Regions from separate parts of the Homo sapiens genome. Here regions 1, 3 and 4 are each reported to be linked to region 2. Evidence: microRNA targets listed by miRTarBase, many of them from high-throughput screens and not tested one by one. Region 2 holds a microRNA gene; each other region holds the end of a gene's coding sequence.
What was found. Region 2 holds the annotated microRNA hsa-miR-342-3p (UCUCACACAGAAAUCGCACCCGU, at 4,052-4,074, shown strand). A microRNA usually pairs through its seed, bases 2 to 8, with sites in the 3' UTR of a target mRNA and lowers its output. Matches are read on the target gene's strand: a 7mer-m8 pairs with bases 2 to 8, a 7mer-A1 pairs with bases 2 to 7 and ends in A, and an 8mer does both.

Region 1 (7,727 bases), not on the chromosome of region 2:
CAGGGACCCCGGAGGTGTGGGTTCAAGTTCGGATGGAGGCCACCGAGCTCTCGTCCTTCACCATCCGTTGTGGGTTCCTGGGGTCTGGCTCCATCTCCCTGGTGACTGTGAGCTGGGGGGGCCCCAACGGTGCTGGGGGGACCACGCTGGCTGTGTTGCACCCAGAACGTGGCATCCGGCAATGGGCCCCTGCTCGCCAGGCCCGCTGGGAAACCCAGAGCAGCATCTCTCTCATCCTGGAAGGCTCTGGGGCCAGCAGCCCCTGCGCCAACACCACCTTCTGCTGCAAGTTTGCGTCCTTCCCTGAGGGCTCCTGGGAGGCCTGTGGGAGCCTCCCGCCCAGCTCAGACCCAGGTGGGGCCGGGGCGAGGGGTCCAGGAGGGCAGGGAGGGGCTCGGGAACTGGCCACCCATCTGATTCTTGTCTCCGTGCCCAGGGCTCTCTGCCCCGCCGACTCCTGCCCCCATTCTGCGGGCAGACCTGGCCGGGATCTTGGGGGTCTCAGGAGTCCTCCTCTTTGGCTGTGTCTACCTCCTTCATCTGCTGCGCCGACATAAGCACCGGTGAGACCTGGTCCCTGTCCACGTCCCCCTGACACTGGGATGGCCACATGCCCTGCAGAGCTCTGACCATCCTTGCTCTCTCCCAGCCCTGCCCCTAGGCTCCAGCCGTCCCGCACCAGCCCCCAGGCACCGAGAGCACGAGCATGGGTGAGGAGGGGACCTGCTTTGGGGATGAGGTGACAGGGGCAGGGGCAGGGGGGCCAGGGCTGGGCCCAAGCTGTGCAGACTCACTTGACCCTCCTTCCCCCGCGCAGGCACCAAGCCAGGCCTCCCAGGCTGCTCTTCACGTCCCTTATGCCACTATCAACACCAGCTGCCGCCCAGCTACTTTGGACACAGCTCACCCCCATGGGGGGCCGTCCTGGTGGGCGTCACTCCCCACCCACGCTGCACACCGGCCCCAGGGCCCTGCCGCCTGGGCCTCCACACCCATCCCTGCACGTGGCAGCTTTGTCTCTGTTGAGAATGGACTCTACGCTCAGGCAGGGGAGAGGCCTCCTCACACTGGTCCCGGCCTCACTCTTTTCCCTGACCCTCGGGGGCCCAGGGCCATGGAAGGACCCTTAGGAGTTCGATGAGAGAGACCATGAGGCCACTGGGCTTTCCCCCTCCCAGGCCTCCTGGGTGTCACCCCCTTACTTTAATTCTTGGGCCTCCAATAAGTGTCCCATAGGTGTCTGGCCAGGCCCACCTGCTGCGGATGTGGTCTCTGTGTGTGCGTGTGTGGGCACAGGTGTGAGTGTGTGAGTGACAGTTACCCCATTTCAGTCATTTCCTGCTGCAACTAAGTCAGCAACACAGTTTCTCTGATGTCGGCCTCGGCTGTGCTTCTTCTTTGGGGGTGAAGAGAGTGGGGAGGCAGTCTCCACCCCTGGGAGGCAGAAGCCAGGTGAGAACCAGAGTGGGTTGGGGCCTCATTGCAGGGCTGGGGTTGGCCCAGGGAGAGGGCAGTGTCCCAATCTTAGAGATCTGTCCTGGCTTCTCAGAGTGGCAGGGGTGTTGGGGGAGCTTCCTGAGGGACACCTGTGGCTGCCTAGATAGGGCTGGGGGATCCCAGTGGGATGGTCTCTGCTCCAATCCCACCATGTTCTAGGACAACAGCAAGGGTTCCTGGGGCTTTGGCCTGAGAGAAGTCCCTGTGGTTTGACCTGGCTTCCCTCTGCTGGGCTCCCTGCTGTGGCCTGGGCTGGGGTCCTGATGCCCTCCTTCCACAGCTGGCGTTAGGCAGGGTGTGGAGAGTAGGGGGACTCACCTGAAATCTTCCCTCAATCACTTCCCCCGCCTCCTCTCGGGGAAGGCAGAGGCCTTCACAGACATGGGGGACTCCCCACAAAATGTTCCATCCAGAGCCAACCTTTCTGCTTGGTAGAGCTGTGTCTCCCCCTCAGCCTAGTTCCAGGGCGGGTCCGTGTCTCCCACCCCAAACTAGTTCCAGGGTGGGTCCCTGTCTCCCACCTCAGACCAGCTTTGGGGCTGGTCCGTGTCTCCCCCTTCAGACTATCTCTGGGGCAGGTCCATGTCTCCCACCTCAGACTAGCTCCAGGGCAGGTCTGTGTCTCCCCATTTAAACTAGCTCTGGGGCGGGTCCGTGTCTCCCCCATCAGACTAGCTCCGGGGCGGGTCTGTGTCTCCCACCTCAGACTAGCTCCAGGGCAGGTCCATGTCTCCCACCTCAGACTAGTTCTGGGGCGGGTCTTTGTCTCCCCGCTCAGACTAGCTCTGGAACGGGTCCTTGCCTTCCCACTCAGATTAGTTCCGGGGTGGGTCCATGTCTCCCCGCTCAGACTAGCTCCAGGGAAGGTCTGTGTCTCTTCCCTCAGATGAGCTCCTGGCAAAGCCTCCCCCGTCAGACTAAGACTCCTAGGCAGAGCCGTGCCTCCCCCTGGTCCAGCCGGCGACCCCTCATGCCCAAGGCAGCCCTACCCATTGAAGTAGGACATGACATCCATGAGGAGTGTGGCAACAGCAGGCAGCGTGTCGGGGTCCAGGCTGGTGACACAGAACCTGTTGCTCGGGCTGGACAGTGGGTGGATGACCGGCATCTGGACTGTAAGAGCACAAAGATGTCAGGCACTGAGGCTGGGACTGAAAGCAGCAGCTCTGGTGAGTGCAGGGCCTGGGAAGAGGGCTGGGGAGGGCTCAGCCGCAGGCCCTGAGAGACTCATTCACTGCTGCTTCTCCAGCCTCTACCACCAATTACCACCGTCCTGATTCTCCATCTCACTCTCAGGCCCCTGGGCCTTTGCACATGCTGTGCTGGCTGCCTGGGATGCCCTTCCCAACTGGCACCACCTGGCCCCGTTCCTACCTGTGTTCCAGGCTTCAGCACCACAGTCCCTGCCCAGGGAAACCCACCCTGACACCTGGGATTGCAGCAGGAGTGGCCTCTGGCCATTGCTGTATGCATGCACGTCCACCACCCTTGCTAGACATGGCAGCAGGGCCTGCCCAGGACCTTTCCATCACATTTTTTTTTTTTTGAGATGGAGTTTTGTTCTTGTTGCCCAGACTGGAGTGCAATGGCACAATCTCGGCTCACCGCAACCTCCGCCTCCTGGGTTCAAGTGATTCTCCTGCCTCAGCCTCCTCAGTAGCTGGAATTACAAATATGCACCACCACACCCAGCTAATTTTGTATTTTTAGTAGAGACCAGGTTTCTCCATGTTGGTCAGGCTTGTCTCAAACTCCTGACCTCAGGTGAATTGCCTGCCTCGGCCTCCCAAAGTGCTGGGTTTACAAGCATGAGCCACCACACCTTGCCCTTTGCATCCCGTTCTGCCTGGCACTCCATTCATGCTCAGTGGGCAGAAGCCCGTGCTGAGAGCAAGGCTGGTCTACGGCTTGGCCTGGTAACTTCGTGAGGTTTCCCCGCACAAACCCCCGCCCCCAGCTCACCCAGCTTGGGCTTCACGAAGCCACTGGTGATGCCGAGGTTCTCGGCTGCTACAGTCTAGCCACTGACCACAGGATGGTGAACTCTGATGACAACGTGTGGGTGACAAAGGGCAGGTCCCGCTTGAGCACCTAGGGGCAAGAAGTTGAGGCTGTGTGTGCCTGGTGGCCCTGGGGCACCAACCTCTCACCCTGAGACTCTGCCCCCACCCTGGAATAGCGTGGAAGGGCAAGGCTGCAAGGGGTGGGAGATGGGAGTGAGTGTGTCAGAGGCGGGCCCAAGTGTGCAAGGCGTGTCTGTGATGGTCAGCTCACCAGGATGAAGTCTGTCTGATACGTGGACAGCATGAACACGGATATGTTCTGGTCAGCCAGTGGGGCGATGACTGACTTGGCGATCTTGGTCATGCCAATAGGCTGGGAGCTGGAGAAGCTGCCACCGCCGGACACCACGTTCAGGGCCAGCCAGGTGGCATCCGCCACACTCAGGTGCTCCGAGGAGGGCAGCTCTGGAGGGAGACACAGAAGGCAGCCCTGTGACTGCTGAGGTTCCAGCTGTCCCAAGGGCAGGGCAAGGTAGGCCAGAGAGGTGGAGAGTGAGGCTCTGGGGCCAGCTCTACCCTGTGCCTTGCCTCACTTTCCAACAGGATTTTTTTTTTTTTTTTTTTTTTGAGACAGTCTTGCTCTGTCACCAGGCTGGAGTGCCTGGAGTGGTGCGATCTCGGCTCACTGCAACCTCTGACTTCCTGGTTCAAGTGATTCTCCTGCCTCGGCCTCCCAAGTAGCTGGGATTACAGGCACGTGCCACCATGCCTGGCTAATTTTTGTATTTTTAATAGAGACGGGGTTTCACCATGTTGGCCAGGATGGTCTCAATCTCTTGACCTCGTGATCCGCCTGCGTCAGCCTCCCAAAGTGCTGGGATTAGAGGCGTGAGCCACCGCACCTGGCTGGATGGGATTGTTTTTTGAGAGAGTCTTGCTCTGTCGCCCAGGCTGGAGTGCAGTGGTGCAATCTCGGCTCATTGCAACCTCCACCTCCTGGGTTCAAGTGATTCTTGAGTAGTGGAGATTACAGGTATGCACCATCACACCCAGCTAATTTTTGTATTTTTAGTAGAGATGGCATTTTCCCATGTTGGTCTGGCTGGTCTCGAACTCCTGATCTCAAGGGGTCCTCCTGCCTTGGCCTCCCAAAGCGCTAGGATTACAGGCGTGAGCCACTGCGCTCGGCCTTCAACAGAATGGGATTTGAATCAAAGGCTGCTTCCTGGGAGGACTGGGCAGGGAAGGCCCTCAGATGACACAGGACATCCCCAGCAGCTTAGCAGAGTAGGAGCCATGTGGGCAAGTGGTTGATCTGCGCCAAGCCTCAGTTTCCTCAGCCGTAAAACGATGGCATCAGTAGTGGGTAATGCCCTTATCTTTAGTTCTTACAACCCTTTTGTGGGTCTGATGCTGTCATCACGCCCATTGTCTCGCGTGCAACTGGCTTTCAAACTGGGTTCCTGGAGACCTCCCAGGAAGGCTCTGGGTGGAGGGGAGGCCAGGAAAAGGCTGGGTGGGGCTTTGGGGTTTCTCTTCCCCCTTCAGCCAGCCCTGCACATTGGGCTTCTCTGGAAGAACAGGCAACTCCAGGAGGGCCCCTGAAGAGGCTGCATCATGGGGGGCAGTGACTGTCACCCATGTCCCTCCTGAGAGCCTGGAAGTCCCAGGGGCTGGCAATGGCTTTGGCAGGCGGGGGAGTCCACAGCAGCAGCAACTGCTAAGCCTCCTTACCTAGCTCATGAAAACCCAGAATCCAAACGCTGGAGCCATCCCTTCCACCCTGTCCTACAGACAGAGTCCCTGAGTAGCCCTGAACGTGGGACACAGGCACACACTATGTGTGACCACACCCAGCCGCAGACTCGAGCCCAGGCTGCATTTGGGGCTCTTCATACATCACCAGGCACCTGCATAAACCCACCTAGTGCCAGGCCCTGAGTGGGGAGGGGGCACGGCACAGGGAGGTGAACTCTGACACTGCATCCCACAAGGAGGCAGGATTTTTTTTTTTTTGAGATGGAGCCTCACTCTGTCACCCAGGCTGGAGTGCATTGGCATGATCTTGGCTCACTGCAACCTCTGCCTCCTGGTTCAAGCAATTATCCTGCCTCGGCCTCTCGAGTAGCTGGGATTAGAGGCACCCACCACCATGCCTGGCTAATTTTTGTATTTTTGGTAAAGATGGGGTTTCACCACGTTGGCCTGGCTGGTCTCAAACTCCTGGCCTCAAGTGATCCACCCACCTTGGTCTCCCAAAGGGCTGGGATTACAAGCGTGAGCCACCGCGCCTGGCCAAGGCAGGGTTATTTTGCTCACTGTACACTCAACGGTCCAGAAACTCTGGACCTGGAAGGCTCAGTGATTTGCCGAAGATCACTTAGGAAATAACAGAGCCAGGATTCCAGTGTGGGTCTGGCTCAAGAACCCAGGCTCTATTTTGGGCACCAAATGAAAACCACCAAGTCCCTAAGAAAATAGGGGGCTAAAAAGAGAGGTGCTGAGGCTGGAGGCAGTGGCTCACGCCTGTACTCTCATTGCTTTGGGAGGCCAAGGTGGGAGGATCGCTTGAGACCAGGAATTGGAGACCAGCCTGGAGAACGTACTGAGACCCCATCTCTAAAAAAATTAAAAATAAATGAGCCAGGCGTGGTGGCACATGCCTGTGGTCCCAGACGCTTGGGAGGCTGAGGTGGGAGGATCGCTTGAGTCTGGGATTTCAAGGCTGCAGTGAGCTATGACTGCACCACTGCACTCCAGCCTAGGTGACACAGCCAGACCCTATCTCAAAAAATAAATCGATAAAAAGGGAGACAGGGGCTCAGAGATGGGTGAGCTAAGGCAGCTGTGATGATGAAGATTCCTGGGGAAAGACGAGCTGGGCTCTGCTGGCAGGCAAGATGGCCTGAGAGGAGGGAAATTGAGTGAGGCCCATGCCTGTTCCTACCTGCCCAGCTCTGGTCACCATGGTGACCACAGCCCAGGGAGCCCATTGGTCCCGCTGGCTGAGAAGGACCAGTGGTCAGCCAGTGGGTGGCTAGAGAGGCAGGCAGCTGCACAGAAATGGGAAAAGGCGGCCCCAGTCTTGAGCAGTGGGAGGCCTGTCTCTTATCAAAGCCGCAGGCTTCGGACTCCGAGGGGCCAATCCTGGCTCTGTCCTCCCCAGCGGAAGCGGCTGCTGATATAGCCTCCGAGGTGGTGAAGTGCTGGGGTGCATATATGCACCTTGAGGGGGTGCTGACATAACCAAGACTCTGCCACTAGGAGTCTCTTGGCAGGTTTGGACGAGACCCAGAGTGGTCTTGGGGAGAAGCCCAGGCCTGAGACCAGCTGGAAACATGGCTGTGGGGGAAGAGGCGGCTGCTGCTGGCTGGAGGATTTCAGGTCAATCAGCAGCTGGCCAGGAGCAGGCAGCCTGTCTGATGGATTGGTCTACCCGCCCTGCTCACAGCCTCCACCCTGGGAAGAACCCAGAGCTGCTGCTGCTTTTTTTTTGAGGGAGAGTGTCTTACTCTGTTGCCCAGGCTGGAGTGCAGTGGCGCGATCTCGGCTCACTGCAACCTCTGCCTCCCGGGTTCAAGCGATTCTCATGTCTCAGCCTCCTGAGTAGCTGGGACTACAGGTGCATACCACCATGCCTGGCTCTTTTTTTTTTGTATTTTTAGTAGAGAAGGGGTTTCACCATGTTGGGCAGGCTGGTCTTGAACTCCTGACCTCAAGTGATCTGCCTGCCTCGGCCTCCCAAAGTGCTGGGATTACAGGTGTCAGCCACCTTGCCTGGCCACCTCTCCACCTTTTGATCAGTCACTGCCTGCTGACCATGCCTTGCCACGCGTGGCATGGACCACAATGATGTACTGCTGTTCCCAGTTCACAGACAAGGGGACTGTGATGGGTGAGGGCTGGTGATGTGGAGCCTAGATAAGCACTGGGCCCCTCTAACTCCAAGTCTAAGCTTCTACCCATTACCCAGAGGCTTCTAACGTTATTCTGAATCTGTCAGGACACCTAGCACTGCACACAGTGCTCATTAAATACTTAAAAGAGGCCAGGTACGGTGGCTCATGCCTGTAATCCCAGTACTTTGGGAGGCCAAGGCAGGCAGATGATTTGAGGTCAGGAGTTCAAGACCAGCCTGGCCAACATGGGTGAAACCTTGTCTGTACTAAAAATATAAAAATTAGCCGGGCGTGGTGGTGAGTGCCTGTAATCCCACCTACTCAGGAG
Region 2 (7,727 bases):
CTTCGTCTGTGAAATGTAGGTGGTTATCCGTGGCATGTCTGTCTCGCAGCATGAGAGTCCAAGGGGACGATGGCTGTAGAAGTATTTGAGACAGACAGCCTAGCACAAGCAGGAAGGGCTGTGATGGTGACTAGCAGTAAGTAGTAGTGGTTGTAGCAGCAGCAGCCGCTTGGCCACATCCCAACTGAATAGGGAACATGCCTCCCCTGCCACAGTGTCTGAAACTCTGCAGAAAGTTTGACTGTCCATGAGCTTCCTTGAGTCGGGGGAGAACCTGCCCTGCAAGCCGGGAGGAGGCTCTTGCCCCCACTCAGCCTTTGCCTCGCATGTGGCTTTAGTTACGTTTTGTCTTCTTTGTAGGTGTTGATGTTCTAGACTCTGAAATGGCAGTGTCAGACCAGACAAGAAGCTCTCACCAGAGACAAAGTGGAAACGGAGAGCTGTTGGCGATTTAGGGGACAGCGGGGACAGGTGCACATTGCAATGTGCAGGATCATCCTGCGCAGTGAAGTCTTGTCTTGCGTGTCCCACCAAAACATGCAGTTGAAAAACTCAAGCCAGAGCTTGCTCTGTTTTAAGAAAAAGCACTTATTTTTTTAACCAGGTTTAGTATGTGCTGAATTTTCTAGGAATTTGACTACTGCATCCGTCAAAAGAAAATCATACTTAATTTTGTTTGTAACTTTACCAAGAGTTGTTTTCTGTTTCGTAAAGTCCTATCTCCAGCATCGTCACTGTGACGTTTCAGTCATCCATAGACCTCCCCTTCGTCACATCCCATTTGCAGCAGCAGCACTCCCAGTGGGTCTGTGGGTAGGTGCAAGCGTGGACCGCCTCCGTCTCCTAGTGTAGCTGGGTCTGGCCCTTTATGTGTTGTAATGCACATTTTATTATAGACTGCTTCTCTTTTCTCTCTCCTTTGCAGTACATGTAAGGCATTATATCCGAATTTAGGTAGGTAGGTTATGTAATCTATGAATTTCACTTCAGGATAATGCAAGGATCATTACAAAACATTATAATAAAAAGAGGACCATCGGGCCTGAGAGGGTTGAAGTTTTGTGAAACTCGGGCTGGTTCCTTCCTGCATTGCATCTGTGTCTTGCCTGGTTGTCGCTTAACAGTGCCATGGAGATAGCACAGTGTCTGTCTCATTTCACAGCCAGGAAAACTGAGCCCCAGAGGGAGGAAGTTTGTACTTGGCCCAAACCACTTCCTGATATGACCCAGTCAGGAAGAGAAGCCAGGATGAGAACATGCTCCTCTTCTCCTCCAGTGCCTGGAAGTGTGGTGGGAGCAGCTTGGTCTAGCAGGAAGAGTGCATGTCCTGGAGCCGGGCTACGTTGGGTCTGTGTGACCCTGAGCAAGTCACCTCCTCCATCAGCAGGTGGAATGACACCACAGGCCCGTGGCAGTTCACATGACACGAAGATGCCCGGTGCCTGGTATGTGGCCTTCAGGGCCGTGCCCCATGCTGCTCCTCTTTTTGTCCCCACATCCAGCAGTTTTCCATTAAACCACTGTAGGTCCTCTCAGAACTTACTAGAGTCATCGTGTCATCGTCTCCCATTACTCCAGGAGAGCAGGGCCCTGGTGGCACTTGAGGCAAGACCCCAAGCTGATGGCACTCGACCACATAGTGGGAGTGAATTTTAAAGAAAATCCCCCTCAAAGCCTCTGCTGGTGTAGAAGGCAGATAGTCTAGGCCGGGGTAGGGCCAGTGAGTGGGAGCCAGGGAAGGAGGCTTGGGTGTCATGAGACTGGGTTTACATTTACAGATGACAAAACCAAGACCCAGTGAGGGGGAGGATGTGTGCAGGCCACAGGACAAGTCTGAGCAGAACCATGGCCACGCCCAACGTTCCTCCACTAGCATTCCCTCATGAAAGATCACTTTTTCCAGGCCAAGGACCAGAAAAGGACCAGGCTTTAGGAAGAGGGCCGAGGTGCATGGAAAGCAGTGCTGGTGAGGAGAGGGTTGAGTAACTGGATTTTGACTGTTTCTTCGCATTTGGTTCTCACTAATGAAATCTTGTCAGACGTGCCCCTGCTGCTGGATTGGGTGGGGGTGGGACAGAAGCATGTGTGGTCAAAGGCAAGTTTATTTGCAGTTTGGGGGTTGAATGCAGTGGATTTCAAACTGGATATTTTGAGGAGTTCCAGGGGTCCACCAAGGTATACCAGGGTCCTCGCCCTGATGCAACCAGAGTAGTTCTTCATCGACTTTATACAGTGGGACTCTGAAGAAAAGAAAAAGGAAAACCCCATAGCTTAGTGGGAATCCGGGCGAATTAAAACACAGGATGAAGTGCTTGTTCTCTTTGGCTCTTGGAGCATAATGTATGTCCTTTTCCTACTTGGTTTGCGTGTAATAACATCATTGGTATATTTCAAAATATGAAGCTCCTGGTGCTGGATAATAAATGTTTTCCCAGTTTTTCAACCTCTTATGTCCTTCATTGATGCCCAGTGGCCCAGGGGCTGCACCTTCAGCACAGTGTTGAGAAAGAGCCCCGGAAAGGGACTTACAGGCAGACCTTCCCGGGAAGAGTCAGGCCCAGCTCCATGTGCTCTTTGGAGGGGAGTGGAAGGTTGTTAAACCTCATAGCTCTTGGAGGTGGGGCTGAATTTTGCTTCTTGTAAACCTCTTTCCATTGGAAATTACCTCTTTCTCCCCTAAAGAGAAGGAAGTACTGGACTGTCTTCATCTCCCTGGCTGCCGAGGCCATTTGACACCTTGTGCCACCTGAGAGAAAGCAGGCCCAGCATGGCCCTGCCTGAGGGGAACAGGACGGCAAGCCCCTGGCCTCCTGCCTGCTCCCAGCTGCCCTCTGGCGGCCACTTTCTGAAAGCCGGATATGTCTCTTTGCTGACCCACCCCTGTTCTCACCCCAGGGCTCCAGATGTTGTATCAGGCAGGGCCTTTGTACGCCTCCATGCCAACAGCTACCCAAGTCGCACCGTCAGTCACACTCTTACTCAGGCTCTCCTGTGCCCCTGGCCCTTCTTCCCCTCTCACTTTTCCCCACACTTCTAAAATCTCACTCGTCCTGTCAGAATGTGGCTCCACAGATGGAGCCTTTCCCAGCCGCCCCGCTCCCTGTGACTTTGCACTCCCTCCTGCACTCCCACGGGGCTTTATTTTTGCCTCTGTCCTAACAGTCAGCTGCCACTTGGCCTGTCCTGCTATTCCCACTGCATGAATCTAGTCAGGTTGGAAATTCAGAAAGTGGCCTCTTTGTCTCTGGACCCCAAAAACCCACACATCGTCTGCCTTATAAGCTCTCAGTATATCCATCCCTGGCTGCAGGAACACACCAGGACCCAGAGGCTGCCGTGCCTGGAGCCCTGTCTCCTGACTCAGCCCAGGCCCCAGCTCAGCATCGAGGTCCTGTGGGACCATGTCCAGCAGTGAAGGCTGTGCATTGGCCTGAGCCCCTGGTCCCTCTGACTCACTGGCTCCCATTTTCACCACCTGCACTGCATATTCTCACCGTCTCTCCCCTGACACTCTCTCCCCTGAAGTGTTGTAATGGGGTTGTAACCCATCCACCTTCTCTTGTCCTTCTTCAGTCTGTCCTCCCTGGGCTGCGTCTAAAGGGGCCCCGCCCCTGCCCTCATGCATGTTCTCTCCATACTCCTGGTCACCTTCTGCTCATCCTTTGCCCTGCTGTTGTGAAGCCTTCCCAGTGCCCCAGAAGACCTCAGGCACCCCTTCCCAGTCCTCGCACACTGTTGGTGTCCCATTTGTTTGGACCCTGGGTTTGTTTGTCTAGACTGTGAGCTCCTCGAGGGCAGGTGTCTGTTTCTGTGTCTCGGGAGCCCTGAAGAGAGACTGACACATCAGAGGTGTCTGGTGACTGAACAAGCTCCCAGCTTGCGCCCATGTCATATTGTGTGCCTCTCATAGCCTGGCACTTCCTGCCATTGCATCCTTCTCTGCAGACTAAGATGGAGTTCCTGAACCAAGACCGCTTGCTGGCCAACCTGTGAAACTGGGCTCAAGGTGAGGGGTGCTATCTGTGATTGAGGGACATGGTTAATGGAATTGTCTCACACAGAAATCGCACCCGTCACCTTGGCCTACTTATCACCACCCCAAACAGAGGAACACGCCTTCTCCAGCCACAGCCTATGGAAGGGCCTTCAGCTGCTGTGGCCCCGAGGTGTGCATACTGTGGAAGGAACTTCGGACGTGAACTCGGATCTGGTTCCAGTACCAGCTGTGCCAGGAGTGTGCCCTTGGGCATGTCACTGACCTAAGACTCAGTTTCGCCATCTGTGAAATGGCTGAATCAGACTCACCTCACAGGGTTGTTGTGAGGGTACCATGAGATGATGTTTGTAAACATTCTTTGTCACCTCTAAATTACTATAACAGTTTGAAGTTACTCTTTTTAAAAAAATTATTTGCAAAGGTAACTAACAATATCAGCCGTGCACAGTGGCTCATGCCTGTAATCCCAGCACTTTAGGAGGTCAGGGGATCACTTCAGTGTGAGAGTTCGAGACCTGCCTGGTCAACATAGCAAGACCCTTGTCTCTACAAAAGCATTAAAAATTAGCTAAGTGTGATGGCGTGTGCCTGTGGTCCCAGCTACTCAGGAGGCTGGGGTAGCAGAATTGCTTGAGCCCTGGAGTCTGAGGCTGCAGTGAGCCATGGTTACACCACTGCACTTCAGCCTGGGCAACAGAGCAAGACGCTGTCTCAGGAAAAAAAAAAAAAGGTAACTAACAATATCAACTCCTGTGTGGTGCCAGCAGCCATCACGTTGGGACACAGAGGGAAGCCAGGCTTCTTGGATCCTGATGGTCAGAGAACACTTTCTGAGGGAAGCGGGGCTTGAACCTGGGCCCTGCAGGGCTGGGGGTGAATGGGGGGATCTGATGAGGAGGAGGACGGCGGCACCAGCAGATCTTGGTGGTTTGGAAGTTCAAATCAAGATCTGAGAAGAGGCTCTGTCTGACCCTGGGGGTCTCCCTCGGCACATTGGTAGTACTGTGCATGCCTCACGGGTGCCCCTAATTTCAGAGCATCCCACCTGCATCCTGCTGCTGCCATTGTCCTCCTCAAAAGAGCTGCTGGCTTATTGCAGTTTACATCCTAGAGAAGAGAGGTCTCCTCCTTCCACCAGTCCCAGGATTATCTCCCTAACGCTAATGGCGAGATTCCTTTGGAGTTTTAGTCTTCTGTAGATACAGCCCAGGCGCCATGTGCCCAGTCAGGGTTTGAGATAGGTGGTGGTTCATTCCCCAGCCTTGCCTCACCAGCACCTTCCTGACGCCTCCTGGTAGGGCTCAGGAAGCAGCCAGCTGAGGTGTGCCTGCCATGGTCAGCACAGTGGTTGACAGAAGTGGCACAGATTGTGGGGGCAGGTGACAGGGTACCATGCCCTAGCTCCAGGCACCCGCTCCACCCTGTCACATGGAGCAGCTGTGAAACCTTGAGCAAGCCATTTCACCATTCTAAGCCTTAGTGTCCTCATTTTTTTTTTTTTTTTTTTTTTTTTGTGATAGAGTCTAGCTCTTGTTGCCCAGGCCGGAGTGCAGTGGTGCAAACTCAGCTCACTGCAACCTCTGCCTCCCAGGTTCAAGCGATTCTCCTGCCTCAGCCTCCCAAGTAGCTGGGACTACAGGCATGCGCCACCACGCCCGGCTAATTTTTGTATTTTTAGTAGAGACAGGGTTTCACCATGTTGGCCAGGCTGGTCTTGAACTCCTGACCTCTGGTGATCCACCCACCTCGGCCTCCCAAAGTGCTGGGATTACAGGTGTGAGCCACCGTGCCCGGCCAGTTTCCTTGTCTTTAAAATGGGTGTGACAACCACCTCACAGAGTTGTCATGAGGCTCAAATGATAAAATAGATGGGACTGTGATTTGTAAGCATATGGCACAGTGAATGCAAGTTGTTCCTGGAGTGCCCAATCCCTAGATACTGGGATCTCACCCCTCAGTCGTAGCCAGAGTCATTTCATTCTGGTGTGCCACCACCCAGAGCTAAGCCGTATACTCCTTACAGAAAGGAACAAACCCCTTCCTGGATGCTCTTGTGCCTGGATCTTGGCTCCCTGAGATTGCAGGGAGATAGCAGGAATTACTTTCTCCATTTTAAGAAGGAAGAAACAAAGGCTCACAGTGCTAAGAAACTTGCCCCAGGCCACTCTGGTGAATGCAGAGCTTAAGGCCCAGAGCCCAGATGTTCTGATTTCCAGTCCAGGTCTCTGCCCAGTGGACCAGACTGCCTCTCAAAAGACCCTGCTCAGCTGGCAGCCCCCCAGCTTTCTAAACTATAACCCGGCTTGGTCAGAGGTTGATTATTATAAACACTTAACCTGCCCCATCTTTCTAGCCACATACCCACATCTTCGAAAGTGAGGGAAGAATTCATTCACAGCTGTTTTCTTTTTTCCTCGCGTAGCGTGTATCATTTCTTTCCTAAGGAAGGAGTTTTACAAGTAGCCTCCTGCCAGCTTCAGCTCATATAGGATAAAAGCCAGCTCAAATATTTTGGTAGATAACTCCGGAGACTCAGAAAGCCAACTGCTGAACTTGAGATACAGTTTCCAGTTTGAGAGTGGACAGGCTGCGAGTGTTTGAGGCCCTGCCCCCTGCCTATCTGCTGCCTGCCCTCTCTCATCCAGGTGTCCATGCAGCAGGGGGTTTCACAGCAGCCACTGTCTGACTGGCTTGCTCCTGCATTTAGCCCACTCTGATCCATTCCCCGCAAAGCAAGCAGACTGCATTTCACCTCTCAGTCAGGTCTCAGTCCTTGCCCAGAACTCTCTAGGATTTTAGGCTTAACTCAGAATATAGTCCACATCCTTACCAAGGCCTGCTTAGCCCGGCATGCTGTGGCCCTGGCTGTCTTTCTGAACTCACTTCCTCCCTACTCTCTACCTCTCCTCCTTCATCCCAGTTACGCCATGCCCCAGATGTGCCAAGCATGCTCCTAAAGTCAGGGCCTCTACACCCAAGGCCCCTTGTGCCCAGAATGTTTTCTCCCCAAAACCTCAGGGCTCCTTCCCTCACTTCTTCCGGGTGTCTGCTTATACCACGTAATCGCAGAGTTTGTCTTAAGAACGACCCACACACATTCCTTTAATTCTCATTCTCTGCTGTGTTTTTCTTCCTACATGTTGTGTCTTTATTTGTTGCCTGTCTCTCCTCTCTAGATTGTAAGTTCCAGGGGAGCAGTTTGTATCCACAGCTATGACCCCATCTGTGAATTACTGAGCACCTATTCTGGGCCATGCACCAGAACACAAAGATGAATAAGACTTGGTCCCTGTGTTCACAGAGCTCACAGCCAGGTGGAGAGAGAGCCTTGTCAATACAGTGTATGTTATGCTATGATGCAGAGAACACAGGGCTTCTTGCAGGGGAGGCTGTGGTGAAGGGGAGAGCTACTGGGAGAGCCCTGGGGGCGGGCATGCCTGATCTGAGTCTTAAAGGGGATGGACAGACGTTCACCAGTTAGAAGAGTAGCCCAAAAAGAAGCAAAATAGGCAACGGCACAGAGGCATGTGAACCTAGTGCTGCCATCTTGGATGCATGCGGGAGAAGAGAAAGGGGAGGCTGAGGAACAAGCAGAACCAGGCCTAGAAGGGCAGGCTTTGAGCGTAACATCCCAGGCTTAGCCTCATGCCTGGAGCTGCGAGGAAGGTCAAAGAGCAAGTGAGAGCCAGGACTCAGATTTAACTCTTAAGTGGCTTCAAGTCTATATGCT
Region 3 (7,727 bases), not on the chromosome of region 2:
TTGCTCTGTCCAGGGTTCAGGGGCAGAGCCTGAGTTTGGGCCTTGTGGGTTCATGTGGTCCTCCTGTCTGTCCTTGAAGTGTCACTCAGTCTTTGGAAAGAGTCCTGGAGTCCAGGTCGAGCCTGTCCTCCCCTCGTGTTCTGGGTGCCCTACAGAAGGCTGGGATGTGCCCTGATCCACAGTTTTGGTGCCAGGCCTTCCCTCGGCTGAGATGTCCTGGACTTTTCACAGAGCTCTGTAGGGGAGGAGGGTTGTCTAGCTCCCTTATTTATGTATTTATTTATTTTTTAATTCATTATTATTATTATTATTATTTGAGATGAAGTCTCGCTCTGTTGCTTAGGCTGGAGTGCAGTGGCGTGATCTCGGCACATTGCAACCTCTGCCTCCCAGGTTCAAGCAATTCTCCTGCCTCAGCCTCCCAAGTAGCTGTGGTTACAGGCACACGCCACCACCCCCAGCTAATTTTTGTATTTTTAGTAGAGACAGGGTTTCACCTTGTTGGCCAGGCTGGTCTGAAACTCCTGACCTCAGGTGATCTGCCTGCCTCTGCCTCTCAAACAAAGTGCTGGGATTATAGGTATGAGCCACCATACCCGGCCCAGCTCCTTTAGATTTATTCCCTCTTATGGGATGTTTTTAGAGTTCACGTAAGTGCATTGTTCCTTGGACCTCCTGTCTAGGCGTTCACTGCCAATCTGTAGGGTTGCCATTGGCTGTCAGGAAGAGTCCTGCACAGAGGGTCCTGTGCCCTGCAGATGCGATGGGGCGCTTCCTTCCTTTCTCATCCATTTATCTTTCAGTTCTCCTTTCCTATGTAAAGTGATGGTGGCATCACTTTTCTCCTTTATTCCATTAACTCAGAAAATTAACTGATTCAGAGCGTGCCTTCCTCCCCTCTCGCTCCACAACACCACATAGCTCTGCAGCGGTCTCTTCCTAAGTGTTTGGTGGAACTTGCTGGTGAAGCCATCTAGATTGGGCCCAGCGGAAGGGCTGAGCTGCCAGGATGACCCCAAAGGGATGGGATGTTACAGTTGGGTCCTTGGGTCCTTGAAGGCCTTTGCTGCCCCAGGGCTGGATGGGGCAGAACCAGATTGTTGGGGCAGGGAAAAGAGGAAAAAAATGGCTGCTGGGGTGGAGGAACCGGCATGTCCAGCCCCTGCTGCTTTTCTCAGGGGTCACAGAGGAGGTGGTTGGGTGCAGGACAGGCCAGGGCCTGGGCGTTGCTGGCATTGACCATCCCTGTGTGATTGACAGCTGTAGCTGGAACCACTATAACATGCAGTACGCACTAGCAGTTTCCAAGCAGCGGGGCACAAAACGCTCCCTAGACCCGCTGGGAAGTGAGGAGGAGGCAGAAGCATCTGAAGATGACAGCCTGCATCTGCTTGGAGGAGGAGGCAGAGACTCAGAAGAAGAGATGCTGGCCTAGAGCCAGCCGGTTGCAGCGTTGGATTGTGCCGGCTAAGACCTGCCAGGGAGATGGGACCCTTGTGCCACCTGGGCCAGCAAAGAGGAGGGGTCCAGAGAACAGCTGAAATACTGTCACTAGTGGTAGTGACTTGCTTTTCCTGTGCACACATGTAGCCCATCAGGACAGCGAGCCGACGGGTCACGCCAGGGGCCGGCACGCACTGGCACCTGGCCCCAGGAGCGGGGCCGTGTGAACGGTGATGAATGTTGAAAATGCGTCTCAGAGAGGTATTCACATGAACTTTGTATGAGACTTATTTATATCTTTAACATAAAGGTTTGATAAAGAACTTAGGGATTAAAAAAAAGATGGAGTTTTCTAACGTGAGGATGAAGTCTACACTTCAGATTAAAAAGGGTTATGTTGTATCCTGCTGTCTTGTGGGGGCTCAAGACCTGCCTGCCTTACCACCAGGGCCTCCGTCCTGGGGAAGCAGGCTGACAGAGCAGGGTGCTCCTGCTGTCTAGCGGGGGCTCTGCCTTGTGACCTGTGCATATCCTTGGGGTCAGGGGCACAGAGCCTCTCCCTGACCTCTTGGGGATGCTTTGGAGTCTGGGGCTGGGATTGGCCTGTCTTGGTGAGCTCACTCAGACCTGCACCAGCTCTGCGTGGGCCACACGGAGGAGGAGACAGCTCCTCCCCTCTGCAGTGCCCTTGGGAATAGTCATCATGAGAGAGGCTTGGGTCTCCATCATGGTAGGGCATCCTGGTCCCCACAGCTCAGTAACAGCAGCCTCCAGGGTCAGGACCTGAGGCTGACACTGAGGTGGGCACTTCACCGACTGCCAGTGCTGTCTGCCAGGCCCAGCCTGTCCCTCGCCAGCGGTGTGGCCCCCAAGACCCTGGGTAGTACCTGGCTCCCTTGCTTATCTGGGAAGTGGAGCTGATATCTGCCTGCCGGCCTCCCGGGGGTGGCGTGAGGCCAGATGTGCTAGAGAGTGGAGATGAATACGACAGGCAGTGCCTTGTGGCCCACAGCACTGTACCTGCAGGCCTGCAGACCAGAGGTCTTTGTAGAAGGGAGGAGCTCAGGCCCTGATGACACCAGGTGTTCTGTGGCTGCACAATCTCCGTGACCCAGACGAGAGAGAATCCTTAGCTATCGCCTACCCAAAGCACAAGTTCCAGTGTTCCCCTCCCTTGCCTCGCCCTTTTCCGTGAAACAATTTCCAGCGTTCCCCCTCCTCGCCTCACCCTTTTCTGTGTCACATGTGCATGGCGATGGACACCTGAGTAGTCGCCCCTGGGACAACTGGAGCTGCGGCTCTGCAGTGGGGTCTGGGAGCTCCCGGCCAGGGGCAGCTCCCGCACACTTGGTAGAGACAGGGTCCTGGCCCCCACACCGACTGAGTGAGAGTCTGCATTCGGCATTTCCTTTCTGAGTGGCGCTTGGTGTTTTTTTGTGCCATCCCACAACCCCATCGCTCCCACCAGCTGATGCTCCCTGGCTGGCCGCTCCCCAGGAGCTGAGAAGCCTGAAGAGGGCCAGGCACGGAGGAGCAGGAACGAGGACAGTCAAATGTGCCAAGCTTGTCTTTGGTTGTAACTGGTAATGTCCCATGTCTGTTATTCTAGTTCCCCACTATCTTGCAAGGATTGGCAGTAAAGTCCTAGTGATGGACAACGCGGCAGTGGGGAAAGTGACAGCCGTGGCTAGATCATCAGATGTGTCTGTAGAATCCGGTGTGTCCCTGTGAACATCCGCCAGCAGTAACCATTCACATTATTTCAAAAACCTGCATTATTAGGTTGAAAATGGGTAAATCGGGGAAAAAGCCAGCACTTATCCAGCTATTCCTCTGTGAACTAACCCATGCATAACAAACAGATTTTTTTAATGGAAGAATTCCAGCTAGGACCCGAGCAGCTGGGATCTTCACACTGACCGTCCATGCTGTGAACGTAAAAAACAAAAACAAAAAAACAAACCCAAACAGCGCCCGGGAATGGTGGCTCACGCCTGTAATCCCAGCACTTTGGGAGTCCGAGGCGGGCAGATCACCTGAGCTCGGGAGTTCAAGACCAGCCAGACCAACATGGAGAAACCCCGTCTCTACTAAAAATACAAAATTAGCCTGGCGTGGTGGCGCATGCCTGTAGTCCCAGCTACTTGGGAGGCTGAGGCAGAAGAGTCGCTTGAACCTGGGAGGCGGAGGTTGCGTTGAGCCGACTTCGCGCCATTGCACTCCAGCCCGGGCAACAAGAGGGAAACTCCGTCTCAAAAAAAAAAAAAAAAAAACCCAAACAGAATCGGCGGCTCACTTGCCCCCAGACTAACCCAGATCAAGCCCCTGGGTGGAACTGCAGTTTCCAGGATACAACATCCCGGGGTCAGTAAAACCCGGAGGGGTCGCTCCGTGGGAGCCGGAGCCGCGAGGAGACAGTCATGGAAGCGGAGGGGTAGTCCTGACCCCGCGTGGGTCCTGACGCCGAGATTAAGACGAGTGGCCATTTAGGAGGATGTGGACCCTGGACGCTCGTGGTGAGTTAAGGATGAGACGGAGGTAAGGTAAGAAGCGCCGGACTGAGCCGCCCCGAGGCAGCCTTGCTCTGCGGATGGCGGAAAGGGTGCGCCGCCTGTGGAGGCGTCCGATGGGGGCGGGGCTGGGGACCCCGGGAGTCACCAGCATCCCTCAGCCTCGAGCACGAGCCCTCAGCCACCACCGGAAGGAAGACAGGGTTCCCGGAACTCTATTCGGAGGCTCTGCGCAGGCGCGGCCCCCGCCCACCGGCGAACTCACTGGATAGGGCTGAGACGGGGGCGGGTCTTGGCTCCGCCCAGAAGGCTGCGCAGGCGCAGTCCCGACGAGCAACGCGTTTGTAGAGGGGTGGGTGCGCACGCTCTGTCCCTGCGTGACCTTCCGACCCCGCTGTCCTCACCGCAATGGCGGCTGTGAGGGTCCTGGTGGCCTCGAGGCTCGCTGCGGCATCTGCATTCACGTCCCTGTCCCCCGGCGGTCGGACGCCTTCCCAGCGCGCAGCCCTTCACCTCTCCGTGCCGCGCCCCGCGGCCAGGGTCGCGCTGGTGAGTGGACGGAGGGGGTGAGGTCAGCTCCCGCCTCCAGAGATCAGCCTTCGCTGTTCTCTGCCCAAGGTCGGCCCCTCTTCCTAGGTCCGCTCCCGCCGCCCCACGTCGGCTCCTTCACCCCAAGTCAGCTCCTGCGGCCCAGGTCGGCCCCATTTTCCCGGGTCAGCGCCCGCGGCCCAGGTCGGCCCCTTTCCCCCCAGTCAACTCCCGCCGCCCAGGTCGGCCCCTTTCCCCCGGGTCAGCTCCCGCTCCTCTCGCAGGTGCTGTCTGGATGCGGAGTCTACGATGGGACCGAGATCCACGAGGCCTCGGCGTAAGTCCTCAGGGGCAGCTGGTCCTCCACCCCGGGGGCCTCGAGAAGGCCTCTCCACCAGTGAAGTTTACTCTTTTTTGAACAGCTTAGAGAAAGCATGTATTTTATTTTATTTTTACTTTTTGTCTTTTGAGACAGCGCCCAGTCTGGAGTGCAATGGCGCGATCTTGGCTCACTGCGGCCTCCGCCTCCTGGGTTCAAGCGATTCTCCTGCCTCAGCCTTCCGAGTAGCTGGGACTACAAGCATGCACCACCACACCCAACTAATTTGTGTATTTTTGGTAGATACGGAGTTTCACCATGTTGGCCAGGCTGGTCTCAAACTCCTGACCTCAAGTGATCCTCCCGCTTTGGCCTCCCAAAGTGCTGGGATTACAGGCATGAGCCACTGCACCCGGCCGAGAGAGCTTGTATTTTAAATACCCTATTCTTGGCTAAAAAAAAGCAAAAACGACTTGCAAAACCCAGGGAGACGCTAAGAAAGAACAGTTTTTAAGTGTCGCTTATGCTGTCACCTAGAGCCTAGAAATGACTTAGCATTTCACTTGAGTGTTTTTCAGGACACACACATTTTGAAAACACTGAGATCACACTCACCCGTGTTTTGCAAATGTTTCTGACGCATGGGAAGTAATTCCCATTCATTCAGTTCTCAACATCATTTTAACAGTTGCGTGGTATTTCTGGGTCCTAGACAGGTTACTGTTTACGTAACTGGTCAGCTGTTGCTGAGTGCTTGGTGGCCTGATTTCCTGTGCTACTGGAAATGACTGCAGGCCGAACCAGTAGGGCAGGAGGCCACCACGCGTGCCAGGTACCTGTAGTTCCCATGTGGTTCAGGGTGAACTGGAGAGGGGAGAGCTGGGTGGTGGCGAAAGGGGTGTCAGGCCATGGAGAGTGGCCTGAGGCTGGTGGCTTTGTGGGTGGCCCACCTTGGCTGGTTGGAGTTGGCACTAGGCAGAGTGAGCTGGGGGAAAGGGCCAGGATGTGTTTCATGATTTGGCCTTGGTGGGATAGAAAATAGCCCCAGAATAGCTTGAGCCCTCCCAGGCAGAACGGCAGGGTCTTGTGTCTGGGGTGTCTGGGTGGATTTCTTATGGGTAGCGGAACCCAAGTGCCAGGGCCAGGTGCTGACCTCTCCCTCTGGCAAGTCACTGCACTTCATGCCTCGGTTTCCTCCTCCACGTAAGGGGCAGTGAGGGCTTAGTGTGTGGGTGGGCTTAGCCACCTATCTCCTGTTGGCACTGGGAGTTGCGGATGCCAGCGTGAGCCCCCATAATGTCAGCTGTTGTCCCCAGGAGGAGCTTCTGTTGCCCTTGCCCTTGGGGAGATGGAGCTGCCTGGCCTGTGGTGTTGTCCTGGGGTCTCTTGTGTCTCTCCCACCATCTGTGATGGGAAAGTTGAGGGAGACTAGAAATTGAACTAAGTAGTGACCGAAAGCCCCGTCACACCGTCTGTGCACGTGGCACTCTGAGCACACTGCTGCTTCTCACTCTTGGTGCTTGCAGCAAGCAACTGGAGGAGGGCAGCCAGGCCCTGGGTGTAGGTAGAGCACTCAGCAGCCGGGGACCCGCACGCCTCCAGGCTGTGCCCTCAGTGGAGTCACCCGGCCCCCATACCCCAGTTTGCAAAGGGAGCTGTTGGGACCAGCTGATCTCCATAGCCCACTTCTGAGGGTTTGTCATAGTCGTAACCCACCAACCGACAGTGAATTGGAATGGGGGTGTGGGGGACGTTTGGCTTGGTATGGAACCAACTGTAACTTTTTGCAGAGCAAGTAAGATATTAATATACATTAGGAATTTGCTCCTGGTACTTAGCTAAAATCCTGTTTTTAAAAATGTGTTAACACAAATCTGAGTGGGGCACGTTTTGAAGAGTTGTCTCTGGTTTTCCCCCGTGCAGGATCCTGGTGCACCTGAGCCGTGGAGGGGCTGAAGTCCAGATCTTTGCTCCTGACGTCCCTCAGATGCACGTGATTGACCACACCAAGGGGCAGCCGTCCGAAGGCGAGAGCAGGTGTGGGGGTGGGATTGGAACTTGCTTCTTGTCTACCTCCCACGGTGCAGCCTTTTTTTGCTGGCTTAGCTTAAACCAAGTCTTGTGTGCAAATGAACGTCCTTCTGAGCAGCTGTGCTCGGGCTGTTCCAGAAGTAATGCTGCCAAGGCTCAGGAGTGCCTTCCTTCCAGTACTCACAGAAGGACTGAAAATGGCGACCGGATCGCTTCCCACTGAGTCAGGCTGCTCATACCTTGGTCTTAAGCAAAGGTGGTGGTTCTCAGCTTGGTCGCCCACCTTCTTCCCCTGTCTGGGCTCCAGATCTGTTTTGCTGGTTCCCAGCAGCATGTCTGTTACTGCGGTGTGTGTGGTTCTGGCCTGTGTGGCCTGAGATCCCCTTCCCTTGCCTGTCCTGCCTGACAGCCCTGTGCAGGCCATTCCAAGGTGCCTTCCAACTGGCCTCGGACCACGAGAGGTCGGAGCTGGAGATTCGAGGAAGAAGCCATAGCTGCCTCCTGGGGCTGTGCTTCTCACCAGTGGGGACCCCTGTGATTTCTTTTCCTGCCTGGGACCCTGGCTTCTGCACCTGGACTTGCACCTTCGGCCCCCACACCTGGGGGCTAGCAGCTTCCTGCGGTGGCTGGCCTTCGGGTTGCTTCACTGGTCCTGAGTCCTGGCTTCTTACCTTCCCCTCTGAGTCCCACCGTCCTGATGAGTGCACAGAATTCTGTCTGCTTTAGACACTCGGAGAGACTTCCATTTCCCATGGGCCTTGACTGCAGAAGATTCAGAGTGATTTGGCGCAGGTTCTGAAGTGCTGATCGGAAGAGCCCAGCATAGATTTAGCGTTGCTAGAACCATGTTGTCTTTCCAGGTAGTGACCAAACATGCTGACCTGGAAGTAAGTCCC
Region 4 (7,727 bases), not on the chromosome of region 2:
AATGCTCATCATCCTGGCCATCAGAGAAATGCAAATCAAAACTACAGTGAGATACTATCTCACACCAGTTAGAATGGCGATCACTAAAAAGTCAAGAAACAACAGGTGCTGGAGAGGATGTGGGGAAATAGGAACACTTTTACACTGTTGGTGGGACTGTAAACTAGTACAACCATTGTGGAAGTCAGTGTGGCGATTCCTCAGGGATCTAGAACTAGAAATACCATTTGACCCAGCCATCCCATTACTGGGTATATACCCAAAGGATTATAAATCATGCTGCTATAAAGACACATGCACATGAATGTTTATTGCGGCACTATTCACAACAGCAAAGACTTGGAACCAACCCAAACGTCCAACAATGATAGACTGGATTAAGAAAATGTGGCACATATACACCATGGAATACTATGCAGCCATAAAAAATGAGGAGTTCATGTCCTTTGTAGGGACATGGATGAAGCTGGAAACCATCATTCTCAGCAAACTATCGCAAGGACAAAAAACCAAACACCACATGTTCTCACTCATAGGTGGGAATTGAACAATGAGAACACATGGACACCAGGGGAGGGGGGGAGGGATAGCATTAGAAGATATACCTAATGCTAAATGACAAGTTAATGGGTGCAGCACACCAACACGGCACATGTATACATATGTAACAAACCTGCACATTGTGCACACGTACCCTAAAACTTAAAGTATAATAATAAAATAAAAAAGTTATATTATCCATTATATAAAGGATATATTGAAGTCTCCAACTATTCTTGTTTTATTGTATACTTCTTCTTTCAACTGTGTTAGTTTTTGCTTCATGAATTGTGCAGCTTTGTTGTTAAGTGCATATATGTTTATAATTGTGATTTTTCCCAGTAGATTGGCCTTTTTTATCATTATAAAATGTTTATTTCTAGCAATTTTCTTTTGTTTTAAAGTCTATTTATCTGGTATTAGTAAAGTCACTCCAGTTTTCTTGTCTACTGTTTGCATAATATGCAAAACAGGAAAAAAACGCCTGTGATATATAATGCATATATATGATACACATGAGCTGAATACTTCGTAATGTATATTTAGATTATTTAATTATAAATGCAGGCATCCTGCATATCCTGTTCGCTTTGCTGTTGAGGTATAAAATAGAACAATCTTACTGGTTCCAAGACTCAAACACAACTATTTCATGCCTAAATATTTAATGAAAGAATCATAAATGTATGCAAATATTTAACTAGAAACACCTTATTGTTTAGTAGCCCCAAACTGAAATATTATATATCTAAATGTTCAATAATTGGGTATTAAATTATAATACATCTATATATTGGAATATCAGAAAGCCCTTAATAATGTTGTGGAAGATTCTTTAATGACATGGAAAGATAGTCATGATATAGTCAATGAAAAAAGTAGGTTACAAATGGTATGTACAGTATAACTCCGTTGTTATTCAAATATATATTATGTATATGCAAAGAAAAATTACCCAAAGGTTAACGATTATCTCTGAATTCAGCATTATGGGGGTTTTACTTTGTGCTTCCCCTGTCCCTTTGGATTTTCTATAATATGGATGTCTTTTTTTTTTTAACTAGGAAAAAAGAACAATAAGTTAATTTTAAAGATCAAAATATAATTTATGCCTATTAATTTGGCAAAGATTATTTAAAAAGACAATACACAGCATTGGCAAAGATTTGGGAATAAATGGGCATGCGCAAAACGTATGCTGCTAATGTTAGTATAAATAGCTACTAGGAGCTTCGTTATAAACGTGGAAACATAAACTGAAGTCCTTAAAAACAGAGGAAGTATTTTCAGTTCTAGGAATTAAGCAAATTATTTAGGGATGGATGCAAAAATGTCTACATAAACCCAAATATCCATTTTAAATTAATGATTAAATAAATTACATCTGTATGAATCAATACTATGTATTAAAAATTACATTGCAGGATTCTTATTTGACATAGGTCAGTATATTAAGGGCAGTGCACCAAGTTTTTTTTCTTCTTTTTCAAAGCCTACAGCAGGTAGAAATTATGTACCATAAAACACTGAGTTAATATGAAAAGCTATCAGTTTCCTAGGGCTGCCATGACAAATTACCACAAACTAGGTGACTTAAAACAATGGAAATTTATTCTCTTACAGTTCAGGTTAGAAACCCCAAATCAAGGTGTTGGCAAGGTTGGTTCTTTCCGGAAGCTATGAAGGAGAATGCTTGTTACTTCTCTCCTAGCTTCTGGTGGTTGCTGGCAATCCTTGGTGTTCCCTAGTTGTAGGAACATCCCTCCGGTCTCCTTTATCACAAAACAGCCTTCCCAGTGTTTCTGAGTATCTTCTGCTCTTCTTCTAAGGACACTAGTCATTGGATTTAGGGCCCACCCTAATCCGGCATGACTACAACTAATTACATTTGCCAAGACCCGATTTCCAAAATAAGGCCACATTCTGAGGTTTTAGGTTGACATCAGTTTCTGAATGACACTACTCAACCCACTACATGTAAATAACATAGATATACAAAAGATTGAATATATTACTGACAGTGTTTATCTCTGGGTAGTTTTAGTTTATGAATGATTTAAATATTTTTTTGCTTTTCTGAATTTTAAAATAAATAGCTTATATAGAGATTAAGTTCTAAGTTTATTGTATAAAGTGAATATTAGGTGTAGTCAAAAATCATTTCTGGCTGGGTGTGGTGGCTCACACCTGTAATCCCAGCACTTTGGGAGGCCGAGATGGGTAGACTGCTTGAGCCCAGGAGTTTGAGATCAGCCTGGGCAACACGGCAAAACCCCATCTCTACAAAAAATACAAAAATTAGCTCGTTGTGGTGATGCATGCTGTAGTCTCAGCTACTCAGGAGGCTGAGGAGGGAGGATTGCTTGAGCCCAACAGGTCAAGGATGCAGTGGGCTGTGATCGCACCACTGCACTCCACCCTAGGGGAGGCAGAGCAAGACCTTGTCTTTATAAAAAAAAAAAAAATCACTCTTTTCTCTCACAGAGCTCACAAATTACAGAATACATCATTTTATACCTCATATCTCTTCTCAAAAATGTCCAACATAGGCAATTCTTCCTCCAACACTGGAACAGACTACTGTTCCTCTGGGTGAGTACTAGATGAAGCAGTTGGTTTGTGTTTATATGTTATGTTGTACAAAAATGAAAAAAAGGTTTTCTAAACATGAAAGTGTAGTTGAATGTGTTCAAGTTAAATGAGTATGAGACTCCACTGTTTTAGTTGTGTAATTAGAGGAAAAACTATTTTCTTCAATGTTTACGAAGAACACTACCCATGGCAATGAGTTAGGAAACACTCTTAAGACTAAGGGAAAAAAATAATTATTGATTTCCAAAATGGACTTCTTAAAGAGGTGAGGAATATCTCTGAGTATTTCTGAGTTTTTTAAAAGTCCAAAAACTTAAGAAAATAATACTTAATGTTCAGCATGAAGTTGAGATTGGGCTGCAAAATTGGGGTTTAACAATTTGAATGCCCAAGAAGCAGCTTTTGCTTTTTTTGCAGTCACCAATATCCACAATGAACAATATTAATAAAATTAAATCAAAATGAAAAATTGACAGCATTTAAGATACTGTGGATAAAATTATAGCCAATTTTTGTTTTAAAAATTCTTCCACGGTATATTTTCCTTTTAAAGATTTACAACTATGGTGTCTCTCATAACTGGAATAAGATAAATTCTATATAAAATTCAATTTTAAAAAGTATTCTCATGTACAGAGGCTGACATCATGGGTAGTCAAAGAATATGTTTAATAAAAAATAATTAAACTTCCATTTGCTCTATAGAACATCATAGAAAGTAATTTAATAAATTACAAATGACTTTTTAAGACGTTTGCTCAACTACAGAAAGCAAATTCAGACTACACAAAACACAACTGGTAAATATTGCAAATGTCCAAAAGAAAGATTGGACTAAGACTTGAATCATAAAACCTGAAACAAGGGCTATAAATACAAGGCAATAACAGCTATAATTCTTTTAGTAACTACCAACACATACTTGGATATTCTTTCAACTGCAACTTTAGTATTATGTAATTCTACTGATTTTTTTTTCCTTATAACCCTTAACTTTACACAACCATATTTGCATGTGTTTTCTTAGCTGATAGCTGGACAACTTTTCCCCAATGAATATTAAATAGAAGTGTCTTGAAACCTAAGAGAATGTTTAAAGTTATGTTAGACTTAATGCTTTGAAAACTGTAATTGCCTTATTATATAGAAAGAGAATCACTAGGATGTTAACCAAATTTATTTGACCATAATTAGGAAAATACTTTCTCTCATAAATTTGATATAAATTAGATTTTAGTGACAAGATCTACAGATTTTTTTTCCTTTTTTTTTTTTTTAATTGGCGAAAGGAAGGAATAAAGATCATGTGGGTAGAATTAGAGGGAGGAAGGGAAATGTGGTTGGTGTTGAAATACTCCACCGGTAAACTAAGATAACTGTGTTTGAAACTTTGGCTATCTCATAGGTGTATTCTAGTTAAACAAAAGTGCAATACTGCAAAGGGAAGATACTAAATATGTAATATATCATTTTCATGATGAAGAATTACTACCCACTTCTCCTGGATGGGCATTATAGAGACTATTGCTAAGACATTGCATAAAGGACTATCAATTCAAAGTACTATTTTGGGAAAATACAAAATCAATACAATCCCAATGGAACTTATATAATTTTGTAAATACATATAACACTGTCTCTCTAATAAGGGGTTATTTTACATACAGAAACATAATTTACTGGTAAAGGTCTTGGAAAACCTGATACAATTGACTAACTCATGACAAAGCAACAGTTTTATCAAAACATACTGAAAGTATTTTTTCTGTAGGAGAGAACTGGGACACTTTTTCCCCCTAAATTTATGCCCTTGCAGACTTTACTACTAACTTATTTGAGTACCAGAAAAATGCTAACATATATCTCTCCTTAGAATGTCAATATTTTTATGTCCAATTCAGTACTAATTGTTTTAAATATATATAAAGGTGAACCTGGACCTCTACCTTGTCAGAATAATAGCAGCTTTAGCAGGAGAAATTGTATCACAAATCAAATATCAGACAAATTTTACATGGTAAAGGAGTCTATGAAATTGAACAGAAGCCTCAGGCTTCACTTTTGTGGTTTACAGGTATAACTTGTACATCTTTTTGAGATTATTCAAAGTGCATTTTCAAAACGGGCAACTCAGTATATTTAATATAAACTGATAACCCAACACTGATTCTGGGCAACATTTAGTCTGCTTACACCTAGAAACTCAAAATGAATTTAGACTATCTGCATATTACTTTACCACTATTATCTGTTAATTCTGGAATATTTCCATGACATAAAACACAAATAGAAATCTACACAAAGAAAGCAAACAAACAATTTCTTTTACATGAAGTATGCTGTGTTGAAAGTTCTTTTCAGTGGCATTTCATGAGTTTGCCTTTTCTGAACCCTGGAAACAGACATTACTCATCTGAGACATGATTATTTCTAATAGGAGGCCAAACTTTGAAAAGTTAAAACTAAGTATGTCTATAGGGTGCCAAAGTCACATGACACATGATTATTTTATGACTTAATTTTACTGATATCTGAATTAAGCTCAGCAAAAAGCAAGTCATATTTCTTGCCAGATTGACATGATATATAGGATGTGTTTAAAAAACCCCTGAAAACAAGTATAGAATTAGAAACGAATGTAAACTTCCTAAACTAACTCAGCTGAGGTAACAGGTAGCCAGTTAAATTGGCTGATTGGGAAACTTATTTCTTCTTTAAAACATACTTGTACCTGAATTGGAAACATCAGCAGTGCATCACAACACTAGAGCATTTTCATGTAATTAAAGCAATGGATGGTGATGTAGATTCTACAGCTTTCATGACATTCATTAGCTGCCCAAATTATTGCTGAGTTTTGATCTGTAAATTATAGGTGTCAAGGAGGCTGTAAAACTATATTCAAATTAAATCAGTAATATGCATAAAGTATTCTGTGTTCACTGCAAATATATTAAATATACAACTCTTATTGAGCATAATTTTCATAAAATTAACCCCCAACAAAATTATAATGCCTTTTGTTGTAATTTTACACCTTTATGTATTTGATAGTACATACGAGTTCAGAAACTTATGAATCTTAAGAAATATTACATGCAAAAAGTCTCTGAAAGCAGTTTGCACTTCTAAACAAATAACTGAAATGTTCGGTCAGTAAGTTATTGATGCACTCAACACTGGGGTATTTACAATTAATTATTAAAGAAAAAATCCAAAATCAGTTCATATTTTAAGTGCAGAGTCTGGGAATCAGTCTTCATTACTAGAATCTGAATCCTCAGATGACGACGATGTACTATCAGATCCAGATGAAGCATCAGCTTTCTCTGAACCCTCATCTGTGCTGTTTTCATTGAGAGGACTTGGTTCAGTTCCTCCTTTGTCTTCCTGATCTTTAATTCTGGAATCTTCTTCTTTTACTTCTACAGACTTAGACGAGCCTAAGTCACTGTTTTTGTTTTGTACATCAAAAGTATTGGACTGGGACAAAGTTGGAATATGAAGATTAAGGCCTGGAGTGAGAAGCATCCCTGGATAAAGTATATTAGATAGTAATAGTGGGTTAAGAGCTAATGGGTTGGCAGCTGCAGCTGTATTTAATGCAGCAGTAGAGGATGTGGAAGGAGAACTTGACACAGAGTTTTCTCCACCATTCTCTGAACTTTGGCTCTCTGTCCTTTCTGTTTTTCCTTCTGACTCCTTAGAGTCACTTCCCTTTTTGTCTTCTGTCCCAGATTCCGTAGGCTTTGTCAGGAGTCCTCCCATGCCCAACAGATTTGGTAATCCAGCCATTCCTGACAGCAGCATGGGGAACATAGCAGCCATGTTTTTAGCTTCTCCTCCAGAAGGAAGGCCGGTAGGCATTCCCATCAACCCAGCAGTTACTTGCAGTGACTGCAAGTTTTGTAGGTTTTGTTGTAAGGCCTGAAGAGTTGTGAGATCCACACCTGGAAGTAGTCCATTGGCTAACAAAGGATTGCCTGAAACACTGGTGGCAGATGCAGCAGCTGCTGCTGCTGTGGCCTTTGCAATTCCACTTTTAGGCCGTCTCCCCCGCCTGCTTACTTCCTCTCTCACAACGGGACCAGTGAGAATACGTTCATACATGCTTTCTGGAAGAAATCCCTGGAAGAAATATATATTCATTAATAATCCCTACATGAAAATAAAATAAAGAGTTATTAGCTTATCATACAAATAACCATGAAAAATAGGTAATTATTTGTAAATTTATTCTGTACTGATATTAAATAATCAATTATAATAGCAATAACCTAATTTTATATAAGTGGTAGCTTCAAACAGCTCTTCCACTTTTCATTTTATCACAGAATAAGTGAGTAAAGAGGTCTTTAGCCTTCCTCCATACTGTAAAACATAAGATTGTAGTATAATTCTAGAAAATATAAGGTCCAAAAAAATTTTTTCATGGGTACTTCCATAACCCTTACATGTTTCACACCATCACTTGTCCTAGAAGACCAAAGAAGTGGCTCCCTTCTAATTGGGAAGAACAATAAAGAAGGAATATTAAAGGTTAAGGTTATAGTAAGATGCTTCATATGAATTATTTTACTGTCACTTTGGGAATA

Region 1: miRTarBase lists PVRIG as a target of hsa-miR-342-3p. Seed matches in the 3' UTR shown: 7mer-m8 at 1,297-1,303 and 7mer-m8 at 1,305-1,311.
Region 3: the mRNA of PWP2 is a reported target of hsa-miR-342-3p. The part of its 3' UTR that is shown has no 7-base or 8-base seed match.
Region 4: the mRNA of CHD9 is a reported target of hsa-miR-342-3p. The part of its 3' UTR that is shown has no 7-base or 8-base seed match.

What each region holds. Positions count from the first base shown.
Region 1 is chr7:100,220,111-100,227,837 of GRCh38, forward strand. PVRIG (PVR related immunoglobulin domain containing) reads left to right here. Exons shown (of 5, transcript NM_001397246.1): 2 at 4-354; 3 at 437-563; 4 at 650-710; 5 at 818-1,380. The coding sequence ends at 1,141. It also overlaps the pseudogene CASTOR3P. Among named protein-coding and RNA genes, the nearest start is that of PVRIG, 4.0 kb to the left of the region's middle. RefSeq lists a silencer at 909-958 and enhancers at 1,379-1,478, 1,499-1,598.
Region 2 is chr14:100,105,664-100,113,390 of GRCh38, forward strand. It overlaps MIR342 (microRNA 342), which reads left to right and starts at 3,992; the gene lies at 3,992-4,090. All of the region lies in intron 3 of EVL (Enah/Vasp-like), which reads left to right. MIR151B (microRNA 151b) reads right to left here and starts at 3,851; the gene lies at 3,756-3,851.
Region 3 is chr21:44,129,337-44,137,063 of GRCh38, forward strand. PWP2 (PWP2 small subunit processome component) reads left to right here. Exons shown (of 21, transcript NM_005049.3): 21 at 1,261-1,845. The coding sequence ends at 1,435. It overlaps GATD3 (glutamine amidotransferase class 1 domain containing 3), which reads left to right and starts at 4,347. Exons shown (of 7, transcript NM_004649.8): 1 at 4,347-4,502; 2 at 4,766-4,818; 3 at 6,724-6,837. The coding sequence starts at 4,362. RefSeq lists enhancers at 3,847-4,374, 4,375-4,902, 4,903-5,430.
Region 4 is chr16:53,323,553-53,331,279 of GRCh38, reverse strand. It overlaps CHD9 (chromodomain helicase DNA binding protein 9), which reads right to left. Exons shown (of 39, transcript NM_001308319.2): 39 at 3,783-7,260. The coding sequence ends at 6,385. Among named protein-coding and RNA genes, the nearest start is that of RBL2, 110 kb to the left of the region's middle.